4 separate regions of the Homo sapiens genome follow, and regions 1, 3 and 4 are each linked to region 2. Evidence: fine-mapped expression QTL. A gene starts in region 2. Each other region holds a variant in brackets. All regions are shown on one strand. Distances are from middle to middle.

Evidence for each region. PIP is the estimated chance that this variant, and not a neighbour inherited with it, causes the effect.
Region 1: its variant is fine-mapped to the expression of TLCD4 in subcutaneous fat (GTEx, PIP 0.96).
Region 3: its variant is fine-mapped to the expression of TLCD4 in lung (TOPMed, PIP above 0.99).
Region 4: its variant is fine-mapped to the expression of TLCD4 in whole blood (INTERVAL, PIP above 0.99).

Annotation. Positions count from the first base shown.
Region 1 is chr1:95,159,835-95,167,834 of GRCh38, forward strand. The region is part of intron 5 of TLCD4 (TLC domain containing 4); the gene reads left to right. The region is part of intron 5 of TLCD4-RWDD3 (TLCD4-RWDD3 readthrough); the gene reads left to right. RWDD3-DT (RWDD3 divergent transcript) reads right to left here. Exons shown (of 4, transcript NR_125949.1): 4 at 3,385-5,364. Among named protein-coding and RNA genes, the nearest start is that of TLCD4-RWDD3, 46 kb to the left of the region's middle. The variant C/T (reference allele first, on the strand shown) is at 4,631.
Region 2 is chr1:95,113,557-95,121,556 of GRCh38, forward strand. It overlaps TLCD4 (TLC domain containing 4), which reads left to right and starts at 3,799. Exons shown (of 7, transcript NM_152487.3): 1 at 3,799-4,061. TLCD4-RWDD3 (TLCD4-RWDD3 readthrough) reads left to right here and starts at 4,367. Exons shown (of 8, transcript NM_001199691.1): 1 at 4,367-4,535. RefSeq lists cis regulatory regions at 183-412, 2,024-2,551 and silencers at 3,806-3,952, 3,880-4,159, 4,240-4,289.
Region 3 is chr1:95,257,197-95,265,196 of GRCh38, forward strand. No RefSeq gene overlaps it. Among named protein-coding and RNA genes, the nearest start is that of RWDD3, 27 kb to the left of the region's middle. The variant T/A (reference allele first, on the strand shown) is at 3,885.
Region 4 is chr1:95,136,004-95,144,003 of GRCh38, forward strand. TLCD4 (TLC domain containing 4) reads left to right here. Exons shown (of 7, transcript NM_152487.3): 2 at 7,888-8,000. The coding sequence starts at 7,899. TLCD4-RWDD3 (TLCD4-RWDD3 readthrough) reads left to right here. Exons shown (of 8, transcript NM_001199691.1): 2 at 7,888-8,000. The coding sequence starts at 7,899. Among named protein-coding and RNA genes, the nearest start is that of TLCD4-RWDD3, 22 kb to the left of the region's middle. RefSeq lists an enhancer at 1-254 and a silencer at 809-1,001. The variant T/G (reference allele first, on the strand shown) is at 4,511.

The DNA.
Region 1 (8,000 bases), 46 kb after region 2:
TGAGGCCCCTGCTCTGTTCCATTGGTCAACATCTCTGTTTTGGTACCAGTACCATGCTGTTTTGGTTACTGTAGCCTTGTAGTATAGTTTGAAGTCAGGTAGCATGATGCCTCCAGCATTGTTCTTTTGGCTTAGGATTGTCTTGGCAATGCGGGCTCTTTTTTCATTCCATATGAACTTTAAAGTAGTTTTTTCCAATTCTGTGAAGAAAGTCATTGGTAGCTTGATGGGGATGGCATTGAATCTATAAATTACCTTGGGCAGCATGGCCATTTTCACGATATTGATTCTTCCTACACATGAGCATGGAATGCTCTTCCATTTGTTTGTGTCCTCTTTTATTTCCTTGAGCAGTGGTTTGTAGTTCTCCTTGAAGAGGTCCTTCACATCCCTTGTAAGTTGGATTCCTAGGTATTTTATTATCTTTGTAGCAATAGTGAATGTGAGTTCACTCATGATTTGGTTCTCTGTTTGTCTGTTATTGGTGTATAGGAATGCTTGCGATTTTTGCACATTGATTTTGTATCCTGAGACTTTGCTGAAGTTGCTTATCAGCTTAAGGAGATTTTGGGCTGAGACGATGGGGTTTTCTAAATATACAGTCATGTTATCTGCAAACAGGGACAGTTTGACTTCTTCTTTTCCTAATTGAATACGCTTTATTTCTTTCTCCTGCCTGATTGCCCTGGCCAGAACTTCCAATACTATGTTGAATAGGAGTGGTGAGAGAGGGCATCCCTGTCTTGTGCCAGTTTTCAAAGGGAATGCTTCCAGTTTTTGCCCATTCGGTATGACATTGGCTGTGGGTTTGTCACAGTTTTTATTATTTTGAGATACATCCCATCAATACCTAGTTTATTGAGAGTTTTTCGCATGAAGGCTGTTGAATTTTGTCGAAGGCCTTTTCTGCATCTATTGAGATAATCATGTGGTTTTCGTCTTTGGTTCTGTTTATATGATGGATTATGTTTATTGGTTTACGTATGTTGAACCAGCCTTGTATCCCACTGATGAAGCCAACTTGATCATGGTGGATAAGCTTCTTGATGTGCTGCTGGATTTGGTTTGCCAGTATTTTATTGAGGATTTTTGCATCAATGTTCATGAAGGATATTGGTCTAAAATTCTCTTTTTTTTGTTGTGTCTCTGCCAGGCTTTGGTATCAGGATGATGCTGGCCTCATAAAATAAGTTAGAGAGGATTCCCTCTTTTTCTGTTGATTGGAATAGTTTCAGAAGGAATGGTACCAGCTCCTCTTTGTACCTCTGGTAGAATTCGGCTGTGGATCCGTCTGCTCCTGGACTTTTTTTGATTGGTAGGCTATTAATTATTGCCTCAATTTCAGAGCCTGTTATTGGTCTATTCAGGGATTCAACTTCTTCCTGGTTTAGTCTTGGGAGGGTGTATGTGTCCAGGAATTTATCCATTTCTTCTAGATTTTCTAGTTTATTTGCGTAGAGGTGTTTATAGGATTCTCTGATGGTAGTTTGCATGTCTGTGGGATCAGTAGTGATATCCCCTTTATCATTTTTTATTGCATCTATTGGATTCTTCTCTCTTTTCTTCTTTATTAGTCTTGCTAGCAGTCTATCAATTTTGTTGATCTTTTCAAGAAACCAGCTCTTGGATTCATTGATTTTTTGAAGGGTTTTTGTGTCTCTATCTCCTTCAGTTCTGCTCTGATCTTAGTTATTTCTTGCCTTCTGCTAGCTTTTGAAGTGTTTGCTCTTGCTTTTCTAGTTCTTTTAATTGTGATGTTAGGGTGTCAATTTTAGATCTTTCCTGCTTTCTCTTGTGGGCATTTAGTGCAATAAATTTCCCTCTACACCCTGCTTTAAATGTGTCCCAGAGATTCTGGTATGTTGTGTCTGTGTTCTCATTGGTTTCAAAGAACATCTTTATTTCTGCCTTCATTTCGTTATGTACCCAGTAGTCATTCAGGAGCAGGTTGTTCAGTTTCCATGTAGTTGAGTGGTTTTGAGTGAGATTCTTAATCCTGAGTTCTAGTTTGATTGCACTGTGGTCTGAGAGACAGTTTGTTATAATTTCTGTTCTTTTACATTTGCTGAGGAGTGCTTTACTTCCAACTGTGTGGTCAATTTTGGAATAGTGCGATGTGGTGCTGAGAAGAATGTATATTCTGTTGATTTGGGGTGGAGAGTTCTGTAGATGTCTATTAGGTCTGCTTGATGCAGAGCTGAGTTCAATTCCTGGATATCCTGGTAACTTTCTGTCTCGTTGATCTGTCTAATGTTGACAGTGGGGTGTTAAAAGTCTCCCATTATTATTGTGTGGGAGTCTAAGTCTCTTTGTAGGTCTCTAAGGACTTGCTTTATGAATCTGGGTGCTCCTGTATTGGGTGCATATATATTTAGGATAGTTAGCTCTTCTTGTTGAATTGATTCCTTTACCATTATGTAATGGCCTTCTTTGTCTCTTTTGATCTTTATTGGTTTAAAGTCTATTTTATCAGAGACTAGGATTGCAACCCCTGCTTTTTTTTGCTTTCCATTTGCTCGGTAGATCTTCCTCCATTTCTTTATTTTGAGTGTATGTGTGTCTTTGCATGTGAGATGGGTTTCCTGAATACAGCACACTGATGGGACTTGACTCTTTATCCAATTTGCCAGTCTGTGTCTTTTAATTGGCTCATTTAGCACATGTGCATTTAAGGTTAATATTGTTATGTGTGAATTTGATCCTGCCATTATGATGTTAGCTGGTTATTTTGCCCGCTAATCAGTACAGTTTCTTCATAGCATCGATGGTCTTTACAATTTGGCATGTTTTTGCAGTGGTTAGTACTGGTTGTTCCTTTCCATGTTTAGTGCTTCCTTCAGGAGCTCTTGTAAGGCAGGCGTGGTGGTGACAGAATGTCTCAGCATTTGCTTGTCTGTAAAGGATTTTATTTCTCCTTCACTTATGAAGCTTAGTTTAGCTGGATATGAAATTCTGGATTGAAAGTTCTTTACTTTAAGAATGTTGAACATTGGCCCCCACTCTGTTCTGGCTTGTAGAGTTTCTGCCGAGAGATCCGCTGTTAGTCTGTTGGGCTTCCCTTTGTGGGTAACCCAACCTTTCTCTCTGGCTGCCCTTAACATTTTTTCCTTCATTTCAGCTTTGGTGAATCTGACAATTATGTGTCTTGGAGTTGCTCTTCTCGAGGAGTATCTTTGTGGTGTTCTCTGTATTTCCTGAATTTGAATGTTGGCCTGCCTTGCTAGGTTGGGGAAGTTCTCCTGGATAATACCCTGAAGAGTGTTTTCCAACTTGGTTCCATTCTCCCCATCACTTTCAGGTATACCAGTCAAACGTAGATTTGGTCTCTTCACATAGTCTCATATTTCTCAGAGGCTTCGTTCATTTCTTTTTACTCTTTTTTCTCTAAACTCTTCTCACTTCATTTCATTCATTTGATCTACAATCACTGATACCCTTTCTTCCACTTGATCAAATCGGCTACTGAAGCTTGTGCATGTGTCATATAGTTCTCGTGCCATGGTTTTCAGCTCCATTGGGTACCTGAGGTCTTCTGTATGCTGTTTATTGTAGTTAGCCATTCGTCTACTCTTTTTTGCATGTTTTTAGCTTTTTTGCGATGGGTTCGAACATCCTCCTTTAGCTCGGAGAAGTTTGTTATTACTGATCGTTTGAAGCCTTCTTCTCTCAACTTGTCAAAGTTGTTCTCTGTCCAGCTTTGTTCTGCTGCTGGCGAGGAGCTGCGTTACTTTGGAGGAGAATAGGTGCTCTGATTTTTAGAATTTTCAGCTTTTCTGCTCTAGTTTCTCCCCATCTTTATGGTTTTATCTACCTTTGGTCTTTGATGATGGTGACATACAGATGGGGTTTTGGTGTGGATGTCCTTTCTGTTTGTTAGTTTTCCTTCTAACAGGACCTTCAGCTACAGGTCTGTTGGAGTTTGCTGTAGGTCCACTCCAGACCTTGTTTGCCTGAGTATCACCAGTGGAGGCTGCAGAACAGCAAATATTGCAGAATGGCCAATGTTGCTGCCTGATCCTTCCTCTGGAAGCTTTGTCTCAGAGGGGCACCCAGCCATATGAGGTGTCAGTCGGCCCCTACTGGGAGGTGCCTACCAGTTAGGCTACTCAGGGGTCAGGGGTCCACTTGAGGAGGTAGTCTGTCTGTTCTCAGATCTCAAACTGTGCTGGGAGAACCACTACTGTCTTCAAAGCTGTCAGACAGGGATGTTTAATTCTGCAGAAGTTTCTGCTGCCTTTTGTTCAGCTATGCCCTGCCCCCAGAGGTGGAGTCTACAGAGGCAGGCAGGCCTCCTTGAGCTGTGGTGGGCTCCACCCAGTTCGAGCTTCCAGGCCGCTTTGTTTACCTACTCAAGCCTTAGCAATGGCGGATGCCCCTCCCCCAGCCTCACTGCCGCCTTGCAGTTTGATCTCAGACTGCTGTGCTAGCAATGAGCGAGGCTCCGTGGGCATGGGACCCTCTGAGCCAGGCGCGGGATATAATCTCCTGGTGTGCTGTTTGTTAAGGCTGTTGGAAAAGCGCAATATTAGGGTGGGAGTGTCCCGATTTTCCAGGTACCATCTGCCACAGCTTCCCTTGGCTAGTAAAGGGAATTCCTGACCCCTTGTGCTTCCCAGGTGAGGCGATGCCT[C/T]GCCCTGCTTCGGCTCACACTCTGTGGGCTGCACCCAGTGTCTGACAAGCCCCAGTGAGATGAATGCGGTACCTCAGTTGGAAATGCAGAAGTCACCCGTCTTCTGTGTCGCTCATACTGGGAGCTGTAGACTGGAGCTGGTCCTATTCGGCCATCTTGGAACCCCCGCCACCTCTTGATACTTTTAAAAATGAAGATATTAGTGCCCCAATTTTTTCTTCTACTTCTCTAACTCCTACTTTGCTTCTCAGTTTTTATCACTTGTACTTTTGTATTGCTGAGAATTAAAAATATCTACTTTGTATTCTGTAATCATAGTTTTTCTTTGTAGTCAGTTGATCTACACATAGAAAATCAGTAAAATATTTATTATGATTGTATTAAAATAGTTGATTGCAGGACCCAGATTACATTTTCTGTGTAATTTTTTTGGAGTTTCTAATTGCCTTCCTTTTTTCCCCCCATCATTTGCCTTTACTACATATTTGAGTAGCTTCATATCCTCAAGGATACTACTCCATCTCTGCAACCGTCTTTTCCCAGCTCCCACATACCTGCTCCAGGAGTTTGCTGTTCTGCTGCAGTCTGAACAGATTGCTGTCTGTGCTGCTGCCCAGTGGCCTGGGGCTCCCTGTCATTCCAATCTTGGGCTGAAGTCACTGTTTCCTCAATCCCATGTCTTTGACTTTCTTGTTTATTCACTCATTTTGCTGCAGCATATCCTCAAATGATACCTAAGAAAGCGAAGGAGGTAAACTGAGTCTGTTGAAAGTTCTGAAGATGTTTTTATTCTCAGACTATCTGGTGGTATCATTATCTCTACTGGTGGCATATGGATATGTAATAACATTTAACCAATGACTATTGTTATGTGTTTCAGTGTCATAGGTAACTTTGAGTGAATATCCATATATCTTCTCATTTGTGCACATGAATAATTATTTTCAAAGAATAATTTTGTTGAGTGGAATTCTTGGGCAAATAGTATGTGTGTGTGTGTGTGTTTTTTTTTTTTTTTCAGACAAAGTCTCGCTCTTGTCCCCCAGGGTGGAGTGCAATGGCGTGATCTTGGCTCACTGCAACCTCCACTTCCCGGGTTCAAGCGATTCCCCTGCCTCAGCCTCCCAAGTAGTTGGGATTACCGGCACCTGCCACCATGCCCGGCTAATTTTTGTATTTTTTAGTAGAGACGGGGTTTCAACATGTTGGCAGGCTGGTCTCAAAGTCCTGACCTCAGGTGATCCACCCGCCTCGGCCTCCCAGAGTGCTGGGATTACAGGCATGAGCCACTGCGCCTGGCCTAGTATATGTATGTTTTAAGGATATTGATTCATTCTGCCAAAATTCTCTTCAGAGAACCATTGTGTAACTGGTTCTTTTCATCAAGAGGCTGCTTGGTTTCTGTTGTTTGTTTTATTTTTGTTTTGTGAAGACTGCAGTTAACAGGGATCAGGAACTCTGAAAAGGGTTGGCTAGAAGAGTCTTTACCTGAGCAATGTGGAAATGATACTGGGAAAGAAAATAAACATATACTGTCTGTAAATATCAGAAGGTTTATATGAAAAAGAGATTGGATTCAATTAAGTTTTTTGGGTTGTGAGGATCAGAAGTAGGACAGGCAGGTGGAAATCTGAGAGAGCAGTATAGTTTTGGAACTTTTGAATAGCAGTCCCAGGTTGCAGTGAGCTGCTTACACTTCTCACTATGGGGTAGTCCACCCTAAGCTGAGGGCAAACTGGAAGAGCTTTTGTGGGTGGGATTTAAAAATCTATGGGTAATAGAAAGTAGGTAATTTTCAGAGGCCATTTCAACCATGCCACACTGTGGTATGATGAACATAAAGTCATCATGAACACAGTTAAGTTTAGGTTGGATGAAATATATTATAGTTGTGCAAAGTGAGATGAAAAGCTGACAAAAACCATAGGATCAATAAAACAGTTTAGTTTACCCTTAGAAGTATTAATTTTCCTTTTCATCCTGGATGCTTTTCTGCAACAAGTAGAAAGTAACAACTACTTTTGGAGGGTGATTTGTTCACGTAAGGTTATCTTTTATAGTAAAATAGCAGTGTTCATTAGTAGTGCATCCAGTCCTTCCTGACTGTAATGATCTGTCTAATCATCCATTCCTCCCCATCATCCAGGCCTGAACCTTAGACCTGTGTGGTCACCCTTGCATCAGTAACTAGGTGTGAATGATTGCACCTAGGCAGGAAGGAATAGGCCGTTTTAGGCCTTGTCTTTATAATAAGAAAATTTACCTTGTTCAGTTGTTTTTTTAGAGACAAAGTCTCACTCTGTCACCCACGCTGGAGTACAGTGGTGCAGTCATAGCTTGCTATGGCCTTAACTCCTGAGCTCAAGTGATCCTCCTGCCTCAGCCTCCTGAGTAGCTGGGACTATAGGCACACGCCACCATGCCTGGCTAATTAAAAAAAAAATTTTTTTTGTAGACGTGGGGTCTTACTATGTTGACCAGGCTGGCCCAGAATTCCTGATCTCAAGCGATCCTCCTGCCTCAACCTCCTAAAGTGTTGGGATTATATGCATGAGCCACTGTACCTAGTTCTTTTTCCTCTTTTGAGTGCCTTCTCTTTTGAGTGCCGCATACTGATGGCCATCAGTATTTTTCCTGATGGCCCTCAGTATGCGTCTCATTTTATTCTCATGTCAGTCTTGCTATAAAGATGGCATTGTGCCCATTTTACAAAAGGAGAAACCGAAATTTAGATTAGCTTTGCCCCAAGTTGCCACCAGAGCTAGGATTCAAATCCTGCCCTCCATACCACAGGCGTATTGTCATTAACTGTCTCCGCCTCCCAAAACTTAATTGCTTTTAACTATCCCTGCCTCCCAAAATGTAATTGCTTAATTATAATAATAATTTGCTCAAATAGAGGAAGTTTTAAAAAGTTTGCCAATAAATATTTCTGGAAATTCTGTCAGCATTGGGATATAGTGGTGGTATCTGTTGGGAAATGCTGAGTGTTGGGAGAGAAGCTGAGGCAGGGCTTGCATGTCTGACATAATGTAAGAGAGTCTTGGAACATGTGCGGGGTCCAGGGTCTAAAACCCCTTGTGGCCTTTGGAACACCAAGCTCTGTGCCAAAGGGTGGAAGGCTACCCTGACGCACGGTAATCTAAGCCCAGGGCATAAAACCGCTCGTGGCTTGGATAGAATCCAAGGCTCCTGGCTCTGGAATGTGTCTAGACTTGCTGGCTCCTTGCTCCTTGCTCTCCCAGGATCGATTGTATCTTGAGTTAAAAGAACCTGCTCTCCATTATCTCAAGTAGCAGAGCATATGCTAAACCATCACAGCTGTAAATCATGTGCTTAATGTAACGCTCCCTTTCGACCCCCACATTCT
Region 2 (8,000 bases):
GAAGACAGGTGGGGAGAAGCAGGGCCGGGGGCTGATGGCACTCATTGATGTTTTTTGTTATAAGCCTTTAAGAATTATTTGATTTTTCACTTATGTGTGTTACTTTCACTAAAAATAAAAATGCAAACAAAACAATACACATACATTGTAGAAAATATATCACATATAATAAAATGCGCAAAAAGAACATAAAAAGATGGCCAGAATCTCATCCATCCAGAAAACTGAGTGTGCCTGTAGTCTCAGCTATTTAAGAGGCTAAATGGGGAGGATTGTTTCTGTATTTTATGGGCTGCCTCCATAGATGCCTGGGAGTTAGAGGCTGTCATGTGATATGGTATCTGTGACTGGCCACTGTACTCCTGTACCCCAGCATGGGCAGCATAGCAGACCCTATCTCTTAAAAAAAAAAGTCTCACCCACCCAGAAATAACCACTGGTAATATCTTGAAATAGTTTCATCTGAAAACAAATGAAAGTACTTTTAAAAAAACCTTTTGGTTTGTTTGTTTGTTTGTTTAGAGACAGGGTCTCACTCTGTTACCCAGGCTGGAGTGCAGTGGTGCAATATCAGCTCACTGCAGCCTCCAACTCCTGGTCTCAAGCAATCCTCCTGCCTCAGTCTCCCAAAGCACTTGGGATTACAGACATAAGCCAGTGTGCCTGGTGAAAGTATTTTTAAACACTTATAAAACTACAAACACTCTTAATACACTAAAACTACCAACACAGGAAAAAGTAGTGCTTGGGGTTATTCATTTTTTAGTAATTCAGCCTTTCTGATCAAAATGTTTGGCGTCATTTAGTTTGTATCTTCACTAACAGAGCAGAGTGGAGAATTAAGGCAACTTCTCAAAATATTTTTGCTTTAATTATAATTTTTAGAAAAAAAACAGCTTTTGGTCTTAGTTTTTCAAACAATTGGTTCTATTCAGAAGATTAAGAATTTTGGAAAATAAATTCATCAGGAAAACTTACTTCATTTAAAACAGTTTTTGGCTGGACATGGTAGCCTGTAATCCCAGCACTTTGGGAAGTCGAGGTGGGTGGATCACTTGAGGTCAGCAGTTCGGGACCGGCCTAGCCAACATGGTGAAACCCCGTCTCTATTAGAAATACAAAAATTAGCCAAGCATGGTGGTGCATGCCTGTGATCCCAGGTATTCGGGAGGCTGAAGCACGAGATCTGAAACTGGAAGGCGGAGGTTGCAGTGATCCGAGATGGCACCACTGCACTCCAGCCTGGGCAACAGAGCAAGACTCTGTCTCAAAGAAAAAAAAAAAAGAGTTTTTGTATTTGTTGCCCATTTCAAGTGTGGATAAATACTTTCATTTCTCTGATCTGTTTGCTTGAACTGTTTCAGTGAATAACAATATAAAAAGTGCAATTCGGTCTTTATACATCCCATTTAAAATGCAGAAAAACTTCATATGGTAAATACAGAATTCTGAGAAAGTATCCTTGGAAAGGGAATATTGGTGAAACAATTAATAATACAGATTTAATGAACTGGATATATATATATACACATTATATATATATATATATAATATATATGTTTGTTTTTGAGACAGAGTTTCGCTCTTATTGCCCAGGCTGGAGTGCTATGGTGTGAGCTCGGCTCACACAACCTCTGCCTCCCAGGTTCAAGCGATTTTCCTACCTCAGCCTCTCGAGTAGCTGAGATTATAGGCAAGCACCACCATGCCTGGCTAATTTTTTATATTTTTAGTAGAGACAGGGTTTCTCCATGTTGGTCAGGCTGGTCTCGAACTCTCAACCTCAGGTGATCTGCCCGCCTCAGCCTCCCAAAGTGCTGGGATTACAGGCGTGAGCCACTGCACCCAGCCATGAACTGGATATTTTTAAAGAGATTAAGCTACCCTGAATTTTTCAGGAAAAAATACAGTTGATGTATTCTTCTACCTCCTAAGGTCACTGAGTTTTAATTAGCTTAAAACTTGCAACATTCAACTACTATTTACTGAATTCCTCTCATAGCTCAGGCCTTGTCCTTGATATATTAACTTATATGTTCTGTACAATCTCAAAAACAATCTTGCAGTTTTCATGAGGCATTTGTAGAGGCCTAATATGAAGGAATATAGTGGGACATAGAGTATAGTGGATTTCTGTGGGTTTACCTGGCTTTGGTTACTGCTGTTGGTGTTAGAGAATTATGCATATCAAAGATAATGATGGTGCATTTATCAGGAAAGAACAGAGCTACTATCAGCCACCAGAGACTAGCATGGGAGAGTTTCTGTAGGAGGTAGTGTTGATACAGACTCTTGAGAGGACACTGTGAAATTGGTATTTTCTGGGCTGACTTCACAGATGTTCACATATAACCATCCTGCCCACAGAGAGTTATGAAATAGCTATGTGAGTGCACAAGGTAGCTATTGCGCAAACCAAAGTTGTCAGGTACTGCACATATTGTGAAGGGACTATGATGGGACACCGTGTGGTTCAAAGAGCACTGGAGCCCTGGTACATCCTGAGAGTCTTGGGGAGAAAAAGGGGAACACGCATTTGGGGGCCTGAAAGATCTTTCTCTCTGCTTGACTGCAGGGCAGGTTTCTGTCCCTCCCTGTTCTGTGGTATAGATTTTGTCTTTTCCACATCAGTCCAGGTCTTCAGAGTCACTATGAATTATTATTACCATTTTAAAGATGAAGAAATTGAGCCTCAGTGAGGTTCAGTTAGCTAAAGGCACACAACTCTAATAAACTGACAGAATTCCAGGTTCTGATTTAAATTCTATTGCCCTCTCTTGAAAATAAACATGGACAGCTTATATGAGCTTTTGTGTATATATTTTCTGGTCTAAATCTGCGGCAGATATGTGTGTCTTTCTGCGCATGTATATAGTAGATCAAATATGTTAGCTCTATTGACATTTCTTAGAAATAAATATCCTGTTATCAATGATAGTGTTTACAAATTATTTATTTAGAACTTACCTCTTTTCAAGAAAAGGCCTTGTGATTGCTCTCTGCGAATTATAATGCATGAGTATACCTCTTTGTTATTTTGTTTTGTTTCAGACAATTATCTCTGGTTGATGCAGATCACTTGGAGGCTTTTGGGGCTGTATATAACAGGTCAGAACATCTATTTAATGTCAAACTTTATCTACTAGGCAACTTGGAATTCTCAGCCAGCACCAAATATTCAAATCCAACTTCCACACCCCGACAACAGAGGGGTTCCGGGTGTAGGTGTAGTGCTGGTGCACCCATGAGGGTGTTTTTCAGGAATTCTGGAGGTGGTGCTGGAGAGAACACGCTTCTTCTACACGCGCCCCCTACCAGTTTGGTATGCACCTGCAGCCCCAAAGAAGAACTGGCGGGACTCGAGTGTGGCCGTGTCAGACGTGGCAAGAAAAACCAGCAGTTGCCTTTTCATCTCTTTTCTGATGATCTAACCATGAAGTCCCCAGTATTTGAGCATTTAAGGCAGAATGTAAATTCATAATTTAAGAAGATTTTTTGTTACGTGGCTAGCCCAGGTACTGACCGCTGCGGGGGCGGGCTCACACAGTTCCCCCGCTGGCAAGTTTTGTGACTTGCTTTGGAAAACCCGGGAATTGCACCCTCTGCCCTTGGCAAGGTGTGAGCTTCCAGGATCTCTCCGCTGCGACTTCGGGTGTTAGGGTTTTTGGGCTCTTTCCGGGACCCAAGTTCCAGGGCAAGAAGGTCTGCTCGGCGGCCCGCCTCGGGGCCCCGCCCACTTTGGCCAGGGTCGGAGCCGCCCGGAGCGGGAGCCGGAGCCCGAGCGGCCGCGGCCCCTTTAAGGAGCAGCTCTGCGGTAACCCGAGCCCGCAGTCCGGGCGGGCGCGACGGCCGCCGCGGTAGCTGGAGCCTCCGCGACTGCACCTCCAAGCGGCCCGGAACCCGCGGCTTCCCTGGCTCCCGTGAGCATCTCACCGGGCGGCACTGGCCAGCGCCAGCCCTCGGGCCGGCCCGGATGAGCAGACTCCTGTAGACACCCGCCGCCCTCTCCCGGCTCGGCGCAGCCGCCGCCCGCGCGCGACTCGCCCCGGGACCCGGCACAGGTGACGCCGTTTGGAGGGGGGGTTGGGGAGGAAGGCGGGCTTGCCTCGCCCCGCGGCTCCCCCGCGCCAGCCGCCAAGCGCAGCCCGCGGAGAGGGGTGCCGCGGCTTCCCGCCCCTGGCCTAGCGCGGCCGAGAGCTCCTGCGCCTGGAGGCTGGGTGGGCGTCCGGCGCGCGGGAGGCGGCCCGGGGCTCCCGGGCGGGCTCCGGCAGGTGTGTGCGGAAGGCTCAGCATCGTCCCCGCCCGGCGGGCCACGGCGTCGCTCCGGGAGCAAATGGTGTCCCGGGGCCCGCGGCCCCCGCGCCGCCCGGGCGCCCCGCATTCCTCTCGCGTTTCTCGGGCTGCACGATTCCGGCTGCCCTGTCTGCCTGGCGGTGCCTCTCGGGTCTGAGCTTAAAGCGGGTGGGTGCAAACCTTTGGGCATCCAGGGAGAGCTTTCTTGTTAGAGCCCACACACAATCGGGCGCATCAAGTGGGTAAGTCCCCCTCCCCCGCCGCCACCTTCTGAAACAAGTAGCTCTTATTTACCCTTGCAGTTCTCAAGTGGGTCCCATTTTTAGCCACTGAGTGCTGAAAAGTCTAGTGGGAAGGGACCAGGCGTAGAGTCGGAGGGAGAAATTGGTTTCTATTTCCATCTTTACCTCTGTAACCCCTAAGTGCCTCGGTTTACCCAGCCATGAAATGGGATTCGTAATGCCAGCAGTTTCCTACCCCTCCAAGACGGCAGAAAAACCTCTGTGAAAACACTTTGAGTCTAAATTCATTTAAGAGTCGCTGTTGCTGGTCTGTATATTTTTAATTGTACACACATTTGAGTGTTAATGTGGTGCACACTTTTATATGAAATTATGAAATTTACTTTAAAGACTGATCTTGGATAATGTTTAATCCAAATACCAGTTTGGAGAAGATGGAAGAGTTTGTGTGGACCCTAGGAATTGATGTGTGAAATAGGAAAAAAGATTTAATAAAATCTTTACGCAGTCATAAATGGAGTTGAGAAAAATTGACCTTGGATTGTGGTGTTTTAAGTGAGTTACTCCCGTGCCAGCGCATGGTGTCGATTGAAATGTAGCTTCATCTTTGTGTAGCCGATTAAGGTAATAAGTTAGAGAATCCCAGCTCCCTTTTAATTGTGCTATATATGAGGAATTTTTATCCTTGCTTATCTTTTCCTTAAATTGGGCGAAACGAAATTAGAAAAGTGTATTCCCGCCGTGTTAGAAAATATGAAAGAATGGGTGAAGAACCATGGATTTTAGTTTATTTGCCACGCCCCTCCTGTGCCATCTGATAACCCAGAGAATATTTTGAGGGTGCTTCTTTTTTTTTCTACGCCTGCAACTCCTTTTGTCCCATTACCTCCCTCTGGAGTTTGAATCTTTACTGTCCTCATCCTTGAGATGAATTTTATCTGTTTAGGCTGGATGCCTCTGACCCAGCTGCCCAATCAGTCATTATTTATTTACAGTATTAGATTTCCATTTATATTCATTTCACTCTAAGCCTTCTTTACCCTGGTGGAAAGAATAATGGGTCTTTGCTACTAATGCTTTATACTTGGAGGTGAACTAGGAATGGCATGCTCAAGGTGCTGAGACTAATGCAAACCCCAGGGAAGCTAGGTCTTCACTGGAGTCTTCTGAATAGGTCCTGGAGTACAGATGCAAGAGTTGGCCTGTCTTTTCCTTGATTTTCTGAAATCTCCACTGGGTAAATTCATCTGATTGCCAAGGGAAGTCTTATGAGCAGGGAGCTATCAGAAATCTGAGTGTTAGACTGATTAAGAGCCTTCCCTGCAAAAGACTGGGGAGAAAGAAGTAGTGGCTTTGTAGGTGTTGGAGAGTCCTCCCTGTAACCAGATAACTAGTAGGAAGTAAAGGATCCCTAGATTCCCAATTGAGAAATGGGAAAGGGGCTGGGTTTCAAAAGGGAAGTGGCACAGCTTCTAGGCAGGTTTGGGAATGTACCTGAGGTTTGATGGGCCCTTCTCCCTCTTTCTCTTTGAGAGTGTTTCTGGCTCCTCAGAGTCAAGCACAGCTGTCTTAACAGTTTTCAGACCTGTTTACTCTCCTCTTTGGTGCTCTAAAGGAGGCCCAGCGTTCATGTTCCTCTCTCAAAGCTGGTCTTGCATGTATTAGAGGAAAATGGGCAGTTTAGTTTGTAAGAAACTCTTTAGACCTCAGTGTCTCTCCCCACCCTTCTTTCCAAATTAGTCCCACATCCTACAGATTAAGGATTTGTTTGGGCTTCAATATCTCAAACTGGGATACTCAGTTTGGCTGAGAAGAGTAAACTGAACAGTCTACACTAAGATATGAAAAGCTAGCTTTTCTGTTAAGGAAGATAATGAATTAATTGTCTGGGTGAGAATTATGGGCATTTGGACAAAGGAGGGCCAGACTGGGGGTGGAGTTGTGCTGGACAACTTGTGCCCTCGTCCTTGAGAGAGGAAAGGATACCACCAAACTAGTGCAGTCACCCTGTTGTGCTTTTTCTTCTTCCATTTGCCTTGAGAGAAGAAGAAGATAGCAGTATGGAGGTGGAGTCACCATCTGTTCTCAAGGATGGGAAACAGACTTTAACTGAACATTAGGAATGAGCTGTATTCACCTGGCATTGGTATCAGGCGCTGGATGGATTACACCAGAGAATACATTACATTAGGAAAGTAAGGCTAATTTTGTAAGAAAGTCTAGGTATTTCCAGAGTGACTTTAGTGGTATTTTTTCTTGTTGAGGATGAAAGGTTGCACACAAAGAAATGGAGGCCTACTGCTCTGAGGCTTGTTATTCCTGGTGAGACAGTTGGATGTGCTGCAAGCAGATCCCAGACCTGATCAGGCAGGATAAGGCAGGAATAGCAAAAGGTGTTTCTTTGTTCAGAACATTGGTCTGTTCACGGAGAAGGCAATGGATATATAAGAAGGAGCTTCTGAACTGGTGTAAAAGGCCAAAGCTTTTGAAAACAGCCAACGAAGAAGACACGTGGAAGGCTGTTCAGAGCTTGAGCCAGCACTGGAGGAAGGGAGTCCCAGACAGCGGGACCAATATCATGGGTGGAGTTTGAGTAGGTGGACAAACGCTTGTCTAAAGCAGTGTTTCAAACATTTTCAGACTACAACAGTACAAAATGCATTTTTACACTGAGACCCAGGGCATAGCAAGTATATGTGTATGTGAAACTAGTTTCTATTTCTATTGAATTTCTGTTTCTAGTCTGTGTTCTTAAAAACTCATAACGTGTTAGTGGATCACAGTCCACTATTTGGAAACCACTTTTCCAATGGGTAGAAAAACAGGTTGCAGTGGAGCAGGCTGGGCGGAGGGGGATTGGAGATACTGGAGGAGGTGTGGGGAGCATAGAATTGATTGAGCACTACCTGGACCCCTGTCGGTGGGAGAGAAGGCAGTGTAGAGACTCATCTTGTGTCTGACAGGTGCAGAACTCACATAGATGAAATGATGGGACAGATGCAGAAGAGGGGACTTTCCACCAGTTCTACTTACTTCAAAGCAAAATGATTGGCTTTAAGGAAAAGGAAACGTGCAAGGAGTGAACTTGGATATGTAAGCACATTTCTTTAGAGCAGTAAGATTTTCGTCTGTACGCTTAATGAGGAGACAAAAGGACCCAGAACAAATTGGCTGATGAATTCAGGTCATGTCCACTTTCATGGCCGGATAGGGAGCAGAGGGGCTAGTAGTGCAGGGAGGGTGAGTAGGAGGCTCACACCTCCCCTCACAATTTTGAGAAGTTGGAGCAGAAGCAGCGGATGGAATGTGTTTTGAAACCCCATTTGCTGATCAAACTCATTAGGAAGTTGGCTGCTTGCCTCACAGAGAATTTGAAAAGTATTCTTTTTTTCTTTTTGAGACAGGGTCTCGCTTTGTCACCCAGGCTGGCGTGTAGTGGCACAGTCTTGGCTCACTGCAACTTCC
Region 3 (8,000 bases), 140 kb after region 2:
GCATTTGTGGAGGCTGGCAAGTTCAAAATCTACAGAGTGAGCTGATAGGCTGCAGACTCAGAAAGAGCCCTGTTGCAGTTCAAGTTTGAAGACTCTGAAGATGGATATCCAGGGAAAAGCTAATGTTGCAGTTGATGTCTGAAGATAGTCTGCTGGCAGAATTCCCTTTTACTTTGGGGTGGAGTTGGAGGGTGGGGTCAGCCTTTTATTTGATTTGGGCTTTCCACTGATTGGAAGAGGCCTGATCACATTATAGAGGTGGATCTGTTTTACTCAGAGTCCACCAATTTAAATGTAAATCTCATCCAAAATACCCTCACAGAAACAACCAGAATAATGTTTGACCAAGAACCAGGCCCATTCAAGTTGCCACATAAAATTAACTATCACACCTCTCAAGAAATATCCTGTCAGTTGCTTTGCTTTTAGAGGTGAGGAATGTGGCTTTCAGTTCATATCTGCTTAACTCATTGCCATCTCTTCCCTACCATGTTTTCATTGCTATAAAACATTAAATACTGATATGAATTTGTAGTAGCATTGGTAAGACAGATACCTTTTACAAAATAAGTTAACAACTTGACAAACTGTAGTTTCTTTTGGCTTGAGTGACTCCTCTTGAGTCACAACTAACCATGATAAGAGATTCCACAAAAAGCTACATTTCTGCTAGCCTAGGAGCATAACAAATGTTGACTGAAGGACATATATTGATTTTTTTAAAAAGTGAGCTCATCTGCTTTGGGATATCGCTCCAAAGCTGTAAACTTGTGTTTGCTCAGTTCACTGTTGGCAAGACACCCTGAAGTAGTTATTAGGAAGGAATTCAGGAATTGCACTTTTATCTGTGTGATCCTTCACCTGGTGCATTTCTGGTGCTTCTGATAATGCTGCTCCTTCATCACTAAGGCATGGTTAGCCTCTGCTAATCTTTAGCAATAGAACTTTCATGCAACCAAGAGAGCTATGCTGTAAAGTGCTAATGATTTACCAAAATTCCATGCATGAATCTCTTGATTCTTTGAGAATTCCATCCATTTTCATAACTGTCATTATTTCCCTCTATGTAGTTGAGTCTCAAATTTACATCTCAGGTCCTGACCTCTCACCTGACCTCTAAACACTCATTTCTAACTCTCTGCCTCACATTACAACCTACATGTCCTGCCAACATCTTAAATCCATTATGATTAAAGTAAACCCATTAATGATCTAATTTTTGTTATTGTTGACTGTTGAAATTACTATTAGGCTTCCAGGATTAATCTTGGATTTTCCTTTGACGTCTTCCTTACTCTCTTACATCCAGTTAGCTTCCAAGTATAGTTTGTAGTGATTCTTATATTCACCCATCTTTTCCATTCTCATGGCCACCACTGTATGTAAGTGGCCAGGACTATTGGAGGTCACCAAACTGGCCTTCTCACCTCTGTTCTTCCACTTATCCCATTCTATAGATTGTTACAGTTGATAATCCCTCATCTAAAACTGTTGGAATTAAATCTGTTTTTAGAATGAAGATTTTTCTTTTTAATTTTTGCATTTTTAGAAAGGTAATATGGTTGTACCATATATTTTAAAATCTACCCAATGGGGCTGGGGCAACATTCTGTAATCAAACACAGTTATTTCTTCAGTGAAACACATGAATATTCACATTAAGATAAATAAAGAGTATAAATGTTCTCACTTTGATTCAGGTTAAACTTGGATGCTAAATGAATTCAGATTAGGCTGGCTTTTTAAGGTTTCAGAAAAAAACCTTAATATTTTTGGTTTTTTAGAACTTTTTGGATTTTGGAATTGTGAATTAGGGATGGCAGACCTGGACTAGATAAATCTTCCTCAAGTAGTAGTATCACTCCCGTTTCCTACTGAATTAGTTGTAAACTCTTGAATCTGGTATCTTCAAATGCCTTCTCAATTTGACCCCACATCATTATTTTCTGGGTTTATTTTCCACTCATTCTCTATGTAGCCTTTTTGCCTCAGCCAAACTGTATAAATATTGCTTATTTTTCTTTCCTCTGCATATAATCAAATTTGTCCTTCTTCTTGAAATGTTATTTTTTTCTTGTGCATTCTTCTACAAACTGTCTGTTGACATCTTTTCTATATTTGCAGAGCTGTTTCCTGTATAAAATGCTTGATCCCTATTTTGGGATCAATAATTGTTCCTTGGTCTGAATTCTTGTAGCAAGCCTCAGTTTTGACATATGTACAATCAATCAGAATAATACCCCTTTCTTACCTCTTAGACTTGTCATTACACTAAATAATGTACAAATGCCTCTAGCACGGTGTCTGACATGTAGTAGGAACTCAATTGACATTGATTATTCCCTTTTACTCTCTTCCTCCTTCCTTTCCTTTTCTTAGTATATGCTGTACTTTATGTTATCATTTTAAATGTACTTTGTTCTTCCCATTACTAGATTGGAAGTTTTCGAGGGTAGGACCTTACTTATTGGAGGCACAGCAAATATTGAGTTATGTGAAATGAATACAAATTGTGTTACTAGAGAAAGTTAAATTCCTCTTCTGGATTCTGGAAAGACATTGGTTTGTCTATGTATGAATGTACATTGAAACTTCAAACAAAACAAAACAAAACCTATGATGACAAATATAAGTCTTCAAAATCTCCATCAATAACATTCTAACTGCCAGAGATCACCCAATATGACCTTCCATATACTTTCTCTGTTTCAAATATTCTTTGTATTATTATTTCCTTCTCCTTCCTAATCTGGAGACAGAATGGTTGTCTTTTTTAAGGCAAGACCACTTGCCTATACATACTTGATTCCATCCTCTGTCTTCTCTGAGATTTCATAACATTAATTCTCTCTTGCATTTTTAATCTTCAATAATAAAAATGCTCAAATATTTCCTCTTATAAATAGCATCCTCTCTTTGATTCCCACTTTGTTTTGTTCATTGAACTGATATCTATTATGTTATTATGTCATCGCCTCCCATGCCTCTTTAAAAAATTGTGTTGTGAAATATAACACTCATACACAAATGAATAAGATATAATTGTACAGCTAAAGAAATTATTATGAAGTAAAATCTGTATAAATACCACCTGTTCAAGAAATAGAACTTTGCTAGCATCTTTACACTTCCCAGTCTCAACCCCCTGAATTGACCACTATTTGGATGTTTATGGCAATCATTTCCTGGTTCTTTTTTTAATTTTACTACCTAAGTAAGCTAACAGTATAATTTAGTTTTTTAAATTTGTTTTTAAATTCTTTATGATAAAGTCTGATCTCTTCTGCTCAGTCTTGTATTTGTGAGATTCATCTATTTTATTGTTTATAGCTATGAGGCATTCATTTTCATTGTTGTATGAAATATTCATATAGCCCAATTTATTTATCGAGTCTACTATAGATTGTTATTTGTCTAAATATTTAAATTTTTTGCTATCACAAATGGTAGTGCAATAAATGTTGTTGTAGATATCTCCTGGTACATGTAAATATGCATTATTGTTGAGTATATAACTAGCAGTGTGATTACAAGGTTTTAGTGTTTGCATATTTTCAACTTTACTGGATGATGCTAAACTGTGTTCCTAAGTGGTTGGGGCAATTTACACTCCTGGCAATACTTGGTACTGACAGTCTTTTTAATTTTAGTCATTACAGTGTGTGTCTAGTGGTGCTGGATATTAATAATATTGAGCACATTCTAATATATGTTAGCCATTTGGACATCCTCTTTTGTGAATTGTATCTTCAAATCCTTCATTCATTATTCTACTGGGCAGTCTGTTGTTTTCTTATTGGGTGTAGAATTCATTATGAATTCTGGATATGAGCCCTTTGTTGGATATATGTATTGCAAGTAGCTTCTCTCACTCTGTGGTTTGC[T/A]TTTTGTTGTGTCTTTTGATGAACGGAAGTTCTTTTTTTTTAGTAATATGACTGTAAAAATAAAATTCATTTTTAGGTTACAATTTGATGACTTTTGACTCAAGTACACATCCGTAATCATCAACCACTACTCCAATTGTTGGGTCCCCCAATATCGTCTCTGCTTTCTTCCTGTGTCCTGACCAAGGAAAACAGAATGCCTTGACTACTCTGTGACCTGGCCAGCTACATGTTTTTCCTGCATCCTTGAATCCAAGCTAGGGCGTTGAACATTCCCCACTACTGATAAAGCTGTTTAGGTTGTTGCTGGAAACACAGAGATTGATTATGTTACTATACACGTAGAAGGCGTCCACCTTCGGAAAAATTCTTTAAGCTCTCACATAAACTCCATAACCTGACCCCTCATTGCGGACATACTCAGGAAGAACATCTCCCCCTCACTGTCGCTCAGGCGGACCTGCTGCAGCCTCCTCCTGTGTAACTTGTAAGTTCCCCTAATAAATGCTTCAGATTGGTCACTCTGGAGTTTAGTGCTTCCTTCTCTGAAACCCAAGCAGGCCCAATCTCAGGAAGGTTTGGGACGGTCCCTTGAAGGAGTTCCCCTGCCACCATTCTTGGGGTGACTCCAGCTGCTGAGTTTGGCCGGAGAGAAAACCAATCTACACGTACAACCTTTCCACCTTTCCGCCTCCCCAGAACCTTTCCACCTCTCCAGAAAGTTCCCTCAGCCCCATTGCAGTCTCCTCCCCTCCTCTTCTTAGGTAATCACTGTTTTGATTTCTATCACTGTAGATTAGCTTTGCCTGTTCTAGAATAAAGGTGTTATTGAATAATGTGTACTCTTCTGTGTCCAGCTTCTTTCACTGTCTGTGATTTCATCTACATTATGTTGTGTATTGTGGTTTGTTCCCTTCTATTGGTGGCCAGTAGTCCACCATATAAATTTATTTAGCCATTCACCTTTGATGGATATTATGAATAAAACTGCATAAATATTTAGGTGTAAGCCTTTTTATAGATACAGATTTTCACATCTTTTGGTAAATATCTAGGAGTGGAATTTCTATGTCTGTTTAACTTTATATAAGAAATAGCCAAATTGTTTCCAAAGTGGTTGCACCATTTTACGCTTCCATTTGCAATGTACTAGGTTGGTGCAAAAGTAATTGTGGTTTTAGTCATTACTTCCAATGCAAAAACTGCAATTCCTTTTTTTTTTTTTTTGAGACTGAATTTTGCTCTTGTCACCCAGGCTGGAGTGCAATGGCGCGGTCTCAGCTTACTGCAACCTCTGCCTCTCGGGTTCAAACGATTCTCCTGTCTCAGCTTCCCAAGTGGCTGGGATTACAGGCGCCCACCATCAGGCGTGGCTAATTTTTGCATTTTTAGTAGAGACAGGGTTTCGCCATGTTGGCCAGGCTGGTCTCGAGCTCCTGACCTCAGGTGATCTGCCTGCCACGGCCTCCCAAAGTGCTGAGATTACAGACATAAGCCACTGCGCCCAGCCAAAAACCACGATTACTTTTGCATCAACCTACCTATGTTCCAGGCGCTGCATTCCTTCACCAAAAATTGGTATTGCTATTCTTTTTCATTTTAATCACTCTAGTGGGTGGGATATTACACCAAGGTTTATGTTTAGTTATCTGTAGGTTTTCTTAAATGGTCTGAAACAAGTAATTACCTCAGAATAAAATATTTTAGGAACCAATGCTGGCAGGATTACATCTTATAAAGAGGATATTGTTCACCAGTTTTGGTTCTGAGCAATCTTGAGCTAGTCCAGTGCTGGTGTGAAGTGTGCTAGTGCTTTTTTTTTTTTTTAAATCAGGATGCATCTTGATGGTTGGTGTCATAATTTCTGTTTCAGTGGTCTTCTGAATGTCCAGAGCCACTGTAAGGGGAATTGCCTATGCAGGCCATGCCAAGTCTCAGAGCATAGCAGAACATATTATAATACTTCTGGTGCAGTAACAGGCCACTGTGCTTTTGGGGGTCCCTTTCCGGAAAGTAGCGGTCAGAATGATTGACAAAGGCCTTCTGCACAGTAAGATAAGGTGCTCACTTGAATGGAACCTGGGTAGTGGCAGGGCACTGACTTTCTTCATAGATCATTCCCTGAGACTCACTCTAGGTGGTCTATGAATACCACCTCGCCTTTGTCCGCCTGGTCCTTTCAGATTGGTTCCCCTTATCTTCAGGCTCTACTGTCTCACCCTCTCAAAACAATTCCTCTAAAGGCTCTTAACCCACAACCCAGAGAAAATTATGTTCTCTGGTGGGAGAAAAGCTAGTGGTGGTAGAGATCAATAGGTGTTTACATAGTTTCCATTTTAACCTTCCTTTATAGTAATGAGCCCCAATTTCTACCTAGGCACAGTGCCATTTAGAATAAAATCCATATTTTTTAGATTTCCTTTAAACTAGGCAGGGCCATAAGACCAAATTCTGGGTCTTGAACATGACTTCCAGGAAGGCTTCTTGAAGGTGCTGGCTCACTGGGCGCTGTCTCTTTTGCTCTGCCCCTTCCCCCGCCCCCGGCATGTGGACACAGTCCCAGACATTCCAAAGGCATCTGGGATGATGAGGTGAGCTTGAGGGTGAAAGTGGAGCGGACAATAGGAATTACCCTCTGAATGTTTTTTTATGTGAAAGAATATAACTTTGCGGCTTTAAGCCACATTTTAAGTTTTCTATCACATGTCATCAAATCTAGTCCTGATGTACATATATGAAATTTGGAACCTATTACAAGTAACAGAGTATAAAATGTGACTGACTCTGAGTCATTCCAAATCTATTATTTATGGCTTAAACTTTTTGTCTAGAGTTCTTAGAAACCTAGATTTTCTTAAAGTAAGCTTTTGAAACATAATATCCAAGAATTTAATTTTTCTTTACCTGTGTCCAGCTTTAACAACCCTTCTTTGTTGCAGTGAAGGTGAGATGGACCTTATGGTTTGGGCTGAAGAAAAGATACAAAAAAAAAAAAACAAAAAAAAACACAAGAGGAAAAGACAGATAAGTTAATATTTTAAAATACCATCCCATATCATATTAAATAAATATTTCTTCGACTATTTGTAGCAAAATATCACCTTAGCACATTCTCAGTTTATGTTCCCATGTTACTAATAAAGTACAAGGCAATTTGGCATGCTTTTTTGTTATGATAATCTGTTTCCTAGAATTATTACTAATAATTATTCATAATTTCCATGGTGTTAAGATAGTATACTCAGAATGGCGCTAAACTTTTTGCTCTTATTTCTCCTGAAGACACAGATTCCTATGAAAATAACACACAAAGGGGGCAAAAAGGAGAAAAATCTGCTGTGAATTTAATTTATGGTCACTTCTTGGTTTTCATTAGGCCCACTGCTGGATTTACCTTATCAGGCCACAAAAATGTGAATTCCCAAGAAATCCAAGTAGAAAGAGAATAGAGAGAAGGGCAGAATACATTTGATTTCTTTAAAGTTAGAGCTTTGTTCTAGGCCCTCAAGTATGAAGTTATTTAGATCTATTTATAAATCATCTATGTATCTATATTGATAAACCAACTCCACGTGCAAGGGAGCATCTCAGTTAACTTTGAATGAATGAGGTTCCCCATGATCCAAAGGTCAGTTCCTTAATTAGCAAGGCCTTTTTGGAAACATTTTGGAGATGAAATATTTTAAAATGTTTTAGTCATGTGTATTAGTCTGTTCTCACATTACTATAAAGAACTACCTGAGACTGGGTAATTTACAGAGAAAAGAGGTTTAATCAGCTCTGAGTTATGTGGGCTACATAGGCTTCTACTTCTGGGGAGGCCTCAGGAAACTTACAATCATAGTGGAAGGTGAAGAGGAAGCAGGCATGTCTTACATGGCCAGCATGAGAGACAGAGACAGAGACAGAGACAGAGAGAGAGAGAGAGAGAGAGAGAGAGAGAGAGAGAGAGAGACAGAGAGAGAGGAAGTTCTATGCTCTTTATAACAACCAGATCTCGTGAGAATTTATTCACTATCACAAGAACAGCAAGCGGTGAGTCTGCCCTCCATGATTCAATCACCTCCCACCAGGCCCCTACTCCAATACTGGATTACAATTTGACATGAGATTTGG
Region 4 (8,000 bases), 22 kb after region 2:
GACCCACTGAGCCTGGCCTGCTCTCAAGTTTTCAAGTTTTTTTTTTTTATTTTTTTTTAAGAAATCTTGTTCCCAAGCTAACATTACTCAGCCTCTTAGCTCTTTATGACATGATAAGATTACCATCTTTACACCACTCTAAGGGTACTTTGGTATGTAATTAATTGGGAGTATATGGGACTGATGCTTGATCAAAAGATGCACTTCCACTCTTTCTGAGTATAAATGAGCCTGAAATTTGTTTTTTTTTGTGTGTGTTTAGTATTGTTGTTATACTGTTGTCTTTCATTGATTTGTGTCACTTACAATGCTAAGGTCTTGTGTGTATGGCTATTATGCCAAGTCCTATACTTTGGTATTGCCTTTAAAAATTTTATTATATTTTGCCTTTATGATTTGGATTCATTATTTCAGCTAATCAAGATAATTTCAAAACCTGATTCTGTTAACTTAATGTATTAGCTGTCTTTCCCACCTCTGTGTTGTATGCAGCTTAAGTAAACATACAAATATTTACAAAAAATATTTGCTAAAACAGGACCAAAAAAGAGAAAATTGTATAAAATATCAAGAGATATTTCTCAATTCTACTTTGGATCATTAATTTACATGCTGCTTCTAGTTTTCAGCTAGCTCTTGGGCTCACTAACTTTGTTGATCTAGCCACTTTTTTTGGTATTTTTCATAAGGCTATCATGAGAAACTTTCAGAACTTTGCTGGGATCAAGGTATCCTTCACTTGGTATTCTCCAATCTACCAGGATTTGTTGGTCAGTTATTTGTGGAGGTAAGGTATAGGAAGGAATCCAGGATGACTGAGCTGTTCCAGGTTGGAAGATGGGGCAGTATTGTGGATGTCCATGTCATTCATTGAGGTATGGCACCACAGAGAAGGGCTGGTTGGGGTTAAGTTCAACTTGGGCGAAGTAGAACCTGTGGGGCCTCTGGATGCACAAATGGAGCCCATCCAGAGGGTGGCTGACCATTCAGGGCTGGTACATGGCGGGTGGTGAAATCTAGTTGCACACAGTATAAGCAGTGTTGGAGGTGCAGGGCGCATAGCCAGGCAGAACCTATAGTATGCAGAGAAGAGGTTCAGGTAGTGGGGGTTGGGGGGAGGTAGTAAACATTGCCAAGTTAAAGGTGTTTATGCCTGATCGCCTTCATTTTCTTGGTCAAATGGGAAGAAACCTCATCTATTTTAAGAGGGAGAACTAGAGATTTGAGAGCGGTGAATATTTGGAGTCAATGTGGGAAATAGGAAAGGGAGCTTGCCAGGGATGGGAAAAGGAATGCTAAGCATAATTGGGGCATTCTTCCCAGCTTCCCCCTTCTTTGCTGCCCTTAAAGACAAACACACAGACCCATCCCCTTCTTTTTAGGGATTTTTACTGCAAAACACTCCAGCAGTGGTTCTCACTGGGGGATTATATCAGAAAATGAAGGAGAGGGGTTATGTATGTGCATGGAAGTGGCACTGGTATTTGATATATTCTCTAAGGAATCCCTGTATTTGCAAAGGAATCACAAATGGGGGAAATGAGTGAGTGATCGTGTTTTGGTGGGGAGGGGCTGGTAATCCTAACCTCACCTACTAGAACTGAGTCTGTTTTTTCTAAAGTCAATTTCCTTTAAAATTGCCCCTTCTTCCCCTCATCCCCTCTTCCTTCTTCCTCTCTGTCCTTCTTTCCTCCTCCTCTTCTTTTCTCTTTCCCTCCCTCCCTCCCTTTCTTCCTTCTCTTTTTTTCTGAAACAGCGTCTTGCACGGTCACCCAGGCCTGAGTGCCCTGGTACACAATCATAACTCACTGTAGCCTCCATCTCCTGGGCTCAAGTGATCCTCCCATCTCTGCCTCCTGAGTAGTGGGGACTACAGGAATGTGCTACTACACCCAGCTAATTTTTCTATTTTTTGTAGAGACGGGGTCTTGTTAATGTTGTCCAGGCTGGTCTTGAACTCCTGGCCTGAAGCAGTCCTCCTACCTGGGCCTCCTAAAGTGCTGGAATTACAGGCATGAGCCCGACTGAGAACTGAGTCTTTTGGGCTCCAGCCTAAAAGCATCTTATTGGGATTTTAATAGAAGAGAAAATGTCCTCTTGGTTTACTTTTGGATACCTCCTCACTATTATGTGTTACCTCTCCTGGGTATTTATTCCTTGGAAAGCAGGGAGCATTCTCTTAGCACCCTACACTTACCACTTTGTGTGGTGAGGATCAATTTCTTTGTATCCCTACTGGCTATAAGCATGTCTCCCTATTTTGTATTCCAGCACAGTGCCTGGCTCATGGTGGACCAGAGACAGATGGATGGACTGTTTTTTGATGTGAAGACTGAATTAGCCCTGGCAGTGCTGTTTCCCAGGGCCCTATCTCTGGGAGTCCTCCTGCTGGAAGGGAAGTGCTCTCATAGCTGATAGTTAAGACATGTACAGTCATGCATTGCTTAACAATGGGGATACATTCTAAGAAATGTGTCCTTAACACAATTTTATCATTGTGTGAACATCATAGAGTGCACTTAACACAAACCTAGATGGAATAGCCTACCACACACCTAGGCTTTATGACATAACCTGTTGCTCCTAGGCTACAAACCTGTACAGCATTTACTGTACTGAATACAGTACAGTACTGTACTGAATACATTGTGTAGGCAGATGCTACACAATGCCAAGTATTTGTGTATCTAAATACTACATTGTATAGTATTTACTGTACTGAATACATGGTGTAGACAGATGCTACACAATGCCAAGTATTTGTGTATCTAAATTCTACATTGTATAGTATTTACTGTACTGAATACATGGTGTAGACAGATGCTACACAATGCCAAGTATTTGTGTATCTAAACATAGAAAAGGTACAGTTAAAAAATGTAGTATAAAAGATTAAAAATTGGACTAGGCATGGTGGCTCATACCTGTAATCCCAGTGGTTTGGGAGGCTGAGGTGGGAGGATCACTTGAGGCCAGGACTTTGAGACCATCCTGGGCAACATAGTGAGACCCAGTCTCTACAAAAAAAAAAAAAAAAAAAATGAGCTGGGTGTGGTGGCTATGTGGGAGGCTGAGGCGGGAGGATCACTTGAGCCTAGAAGTTTGAGGTTATAGTGAGCTATGATTGTGCCACTGCACTCCAGCCTGGATGACAGAGTGAGAACCTGTGTCAAAAAAAAAAAAAAAAAAAAAAAGATAAAAAATGTTACACCACCTCTGTGGAGCAATTACTGTGAATGGAGCTTGCAGGACTAGAAGTTGCTCTAGGTGAATCACTGAGTGAGTGGTGAGTGAAAGTGGAGGGCTAGGACATTACTGAACATTACTGTAGGCTTTATAAACACTGTACACTTAGGCAACACTAAATTGATTTTAAAAATTTCTTTTTTCAATAAATTAACCTTAGCTTAGTTTCTTTTTTATTTTATAAACTTTTTTATTTAAACCTTTGATTTTTTTTTTTTTTTTTTTTTTGAGACAGTTTCATTCTTGTCACCTAGGCTGGAGTGCAGTGGCGTGATCTTGGCTCACTCCAGCCTCCGTCTCCCAGGTTCAAGTGATTCTCCTGCCTCAGCCTCCTGAGTTGGTGAGACTACAGGCATGTGCCACCATGCCTGGCTAATTTTTTGCATATTTAGTAGAGATGGGGTTTCACCATGTTGACCAGGCTGGTCTCGAACACTTGACCTCAGGTGATCCACCAGCCTCGGCCTGCCAAAGTGCTGGGATTACAGGCGTGAGCCACTGCACCCAGCCTTTGATTCTTTTTAATAACACTTATCTGAAAACAAACCCATTGTATGGCTGTAGAAAAAGATTTTCTTTATATCCTTATTTTATAAGCTTTCTTCTATTTTTACAATTATGTTATTATTATTTTATTACTTTTTTGTTAAAAACGAAGACTCAGACACACACATTAGCCTAGGTCTGTCAGAACCATCAATATCATTGTCGTCCACCTCCACATCTTGTCCCACTGGAAGGTCTTCAGGGATAATAACACACATGGAGCTGTCATCTCCTATGAGAACAATGCCTCCTTCTGGACTGCCTCCTGAAGGACTTTCCTGAGGCTGTTTTACAGTTAATTGTGTGTGTGGTTTTTTTTAATAAATAGAAGGAATACACTGTAAAATCATGATAAAAAGTATAGTGTAGTAAATGCTTAAGCCAGTAACATAGTCATTTATTATCATTGTCAACTATTATGTACTGCACATAATTGTATGTGCTAGACTTTTATATGACCGTCAGTGCAGTAGGTTTATTTACACCAGCATCACCTCAAACACGTGAGTAATGTGTTGCGCTGCGGTGTTATGATGGCTACAGCGTCTCTAGGTGATAGGAATTTTCAGCTCCATTATAATCTTATGAGACCACCATTGTATATGTGGTCTGTCATTGACTGAAACATCGTTATGCAGTGCATGACTGTACTTCAGACCTTTTCATGTTTTTCCCTACTAAGAAATCAGTGTCAATTAAAGTTTATGTAAACCATCTT[T/G]AATGAAAAGTATAAACATTATTTCATTCAACAGGTCTCTGGAAAAGTTTCTTTGATGTCCACAATTCCTGTGAATCAAGATGGACTAATTATAATGTAGAGTTCATGTCTAGACGCTCTTGTAAATTGCTACAGAAGTATTTCCCTTATCTGTTTCAGCTGCTCTTCGCTAGGCCAAATAGTATCCCAGCTTTCTGCCAGCTACTAGCTACCTGTAGAGGTATATGAAGTAGGTGTGCTTTTCCAGTTTTACTGTATATTCCTATACTTAATAATCACCAAACTCTTGCAGGCCCTTAACATATGTTAGTAATGAGCATCCTTTGGTTTTATCACTTTTTACCATTTTTCTTGCCTGATTCATGCATTAAAGTGAATGAACAGGGGTAGCTGCTTCCTACCAGAAGCCTTGGTTTTCTGGGGAAATTTGTAAAGATCTCTAGATTAGTTCTTGATTTGGCATGACTGATTAAGCAAGCAGCTGTTCACTAAGAGGCAAAGCTGAGAGTAGAACAATTTAATTGGCTTCTATCTGTTGAGCTTTTAATGGAAGTCACAGCTTGAATATATGGAGCTCTTTATTTAGTTTTAAATGAAACATTTTTCCAAAGGGAGACTCTAAACATATATCCCAAAGTCTTACCTGATAATAATTCTGTTCAAAATATAATATTCATCCATTAGAACAAAGACTTAAAAACTCGATTTTTGGGCGAGGGTGGGATGATACATTTTTTAATGGTGAATTGTTTGAGTGCTTTTAAATACAGTAGTTAAATGAACAATTCATAAAATGGATAAGGTATGATATGTTTTATGACACCTTTTAACATTCATGAAATAAATGCTTTGTATACATTGAATTTTAACAAACTAAATGAGCAGCCCGTGCCCACCTTCTGCTCTAGGATCAGCAGAGAGCATACGAAAGTCTTCAGGGGAAACCTCCTCACATTTAAGATTAGATTCTCCATTCTCTTCTGATTACTGATTATATTTTTTTTCCAATTTTGTGTCCATCTGGCCTCCAGATACCTATTTGCTTTAATCTTAGAAAAGCATTATTCTCCTTACATCCCACTTAGCAAATTATGGTAATGCTTAATTTATGTACAAAACTTTTATGTATTGTTTGGTTAATATTAAACCTAGGCTAAAAGACCACAAATTAAAATTTTAATACCCAATAAACATATGTTGAATTAAAAAGAAGTAAAAGAGCAGTAAAGTTAATGGAGTCTCATAGAGAAGAATTGTAATATCAATATTTTTACCAAGTACACACACACACACACACACACACACACACACACACACACAAAGAATGAGGAAAGAATTCATTATAGACATATGAATTCTGATGGAAGGGGCCCTGTGGGAGATTGATTCTTATTACGATATCCTGGTTGGAAGGGAATGAAGTGGGGTTATTGCTAGTGCAGTCAATGACTTGGCTTTTCTCTGGTGAATTGATTTCAGTAGGTGACTTTATTTCTTTGCATTAGGCAGCTGGAAATGTGTATTGATTTATTTCTTTTTCATTTGAGAATCAGCTTTATCAAAGATGGAGCCATAGAAATGCTGTATTTGCTGGATATGAGCAAATGCCTTAGTGCCTTTTTTTTTTTTTTTTTGCTCTGAATGTTCCTAAGATTTTTAGGAGCCAAATAAAGTTCAGCTCAATGAAATAGAAAACACACTTTGAGTGTGCATATATGCATAGTACTATTCTTTCTGCTAACTCGATTGTTAAGACCTGAAGCTCTTTTATAAAAATCTTTTTTTTTTTTTTTTTTTTTAATAAGGGATACAAAGCCCTGCAGGCCTTTTGCTCCAAGAATGTGTGTGATTGAAGAGCATGTTTTAAAAGTTAAATTCTCATTTGTGCAGTGACGGTGTTAGCGGTGGAGGGTGTTCAGGTTCTTGGCATTTTGAACAAAGAATTAGACAAAATGCACAAAGCAAGGAAGGAATGAAGCAATGAAAGTAGCGATTTATTAAAAATGAAAGTACACTCCACAGGGTGGGAGTTGGTCCTACCATAGGGGCTCAAGAGCCCGGTTACAGAATTTTCTAGGGCTTAAATACCTGCTACAGGTTTCCCATTGGCCACTTGTTGTACACCCCATGCAAATGAAGTAGTGGCCCACAATCTAGGCCGGTTGTGGTGCCTCACGCCTGTAATCCCAGCACTTTAGGAGGCTGAGGTGGGCAGATCACGAGGTCAGGAGTTCAAGACCAGTCTGGCCAACATGGTGAAACCCCGTCTCTACTAAAAATACAAAAATTAACCGAGTGTGGTGGTGCGTGCCTGTAATCCCAGCCGCTCGCGATGATGAGGCAGCAGAATTGCTTGAATCCGGGAGGCGGAGGTTGCAGTGAGCTGAGATCTATCGCACCACTGCACTCTAGCCTGGGGGACACAGCAAGACTCCATCTGGAGGCGGGGTTGGGGGCGTGGCGGAGGGGAGGGGAAGTTACACTTCTGTGCAAAGGAAGACTTGGCTGGCAGTCAGTCAGATTGGTTGGGGAAAGCAACCAATCAGAGGCTGAAATGAAGTTATAAAGTTATACTCCTATGTAAACGTCTGATTGGTTGCGGAAAGCAACCAATCAGAGGTACTTTCAGTTTTCCATTTGCCACTCAGAAAAGTGAGGGAGGGGTTTTCAAAGCGAGTAACCTCCAGTTATTTTGTTAGTTAGGTGTGTAAAGTTGGGCTTTTCTGTTTGATTTAGTTCTAGGAAGTCAGTATGAATCGGCCTTAGGTTCCCTGCCTCCAGACCCTATTGTCTTGCCTCAACAGTGCAATGGCTCTTTGCTAAGACTGTGTTCTTCTTAAGATTTTAATTTTGTTTTAAATGTTGTTTGTCCTGCTCCAAAATTAGTTTTTTAATTATGGAATTATTTTTTGTTTTGTTATTACAGGCAGTGTTAGTTCTATGGTTTTTGGCTTGATTGTTTCTTAGAAATTATGTAACCAACTCTTTCATATCATAGATGAGAAATTGAGGGATAAAGAAATCGATTTGTCATAAATTTAATTGAAATATTATTAGAAGAATAGTTTTTACTTATAGTACTTGAAATTCTCTGTTAATATTAAGACTTAGATAATTTTGAATATCATGATGTTAAAATTATAAATGACACCTCTAATATTGAGATCTTTAAGATAAAACAGACATAAGATACATGACAAATAGATGGTAAAGGTGAAGAAATATACAAAAGGTCAAAAATTCTTATAGTTTATATTCTTAACATTTGTTCTAAATTTTAAAAATTACTAAAATTACAAGACATATTTCTTAAAATAAAAAAATTACTCTAGGTTTATTATGAGACAACAATTTATAGCTGTCATTTATCTTAACAGGTTGAAGAAATATGGAGATCAACACAAAACTGCTCATCAGTGTTACCTGTATCAGCTTTTTCACCTTTCAGCTTCTTTTCTACTTTGTAAGTTACTGGTTTTCAGCAAAAGTT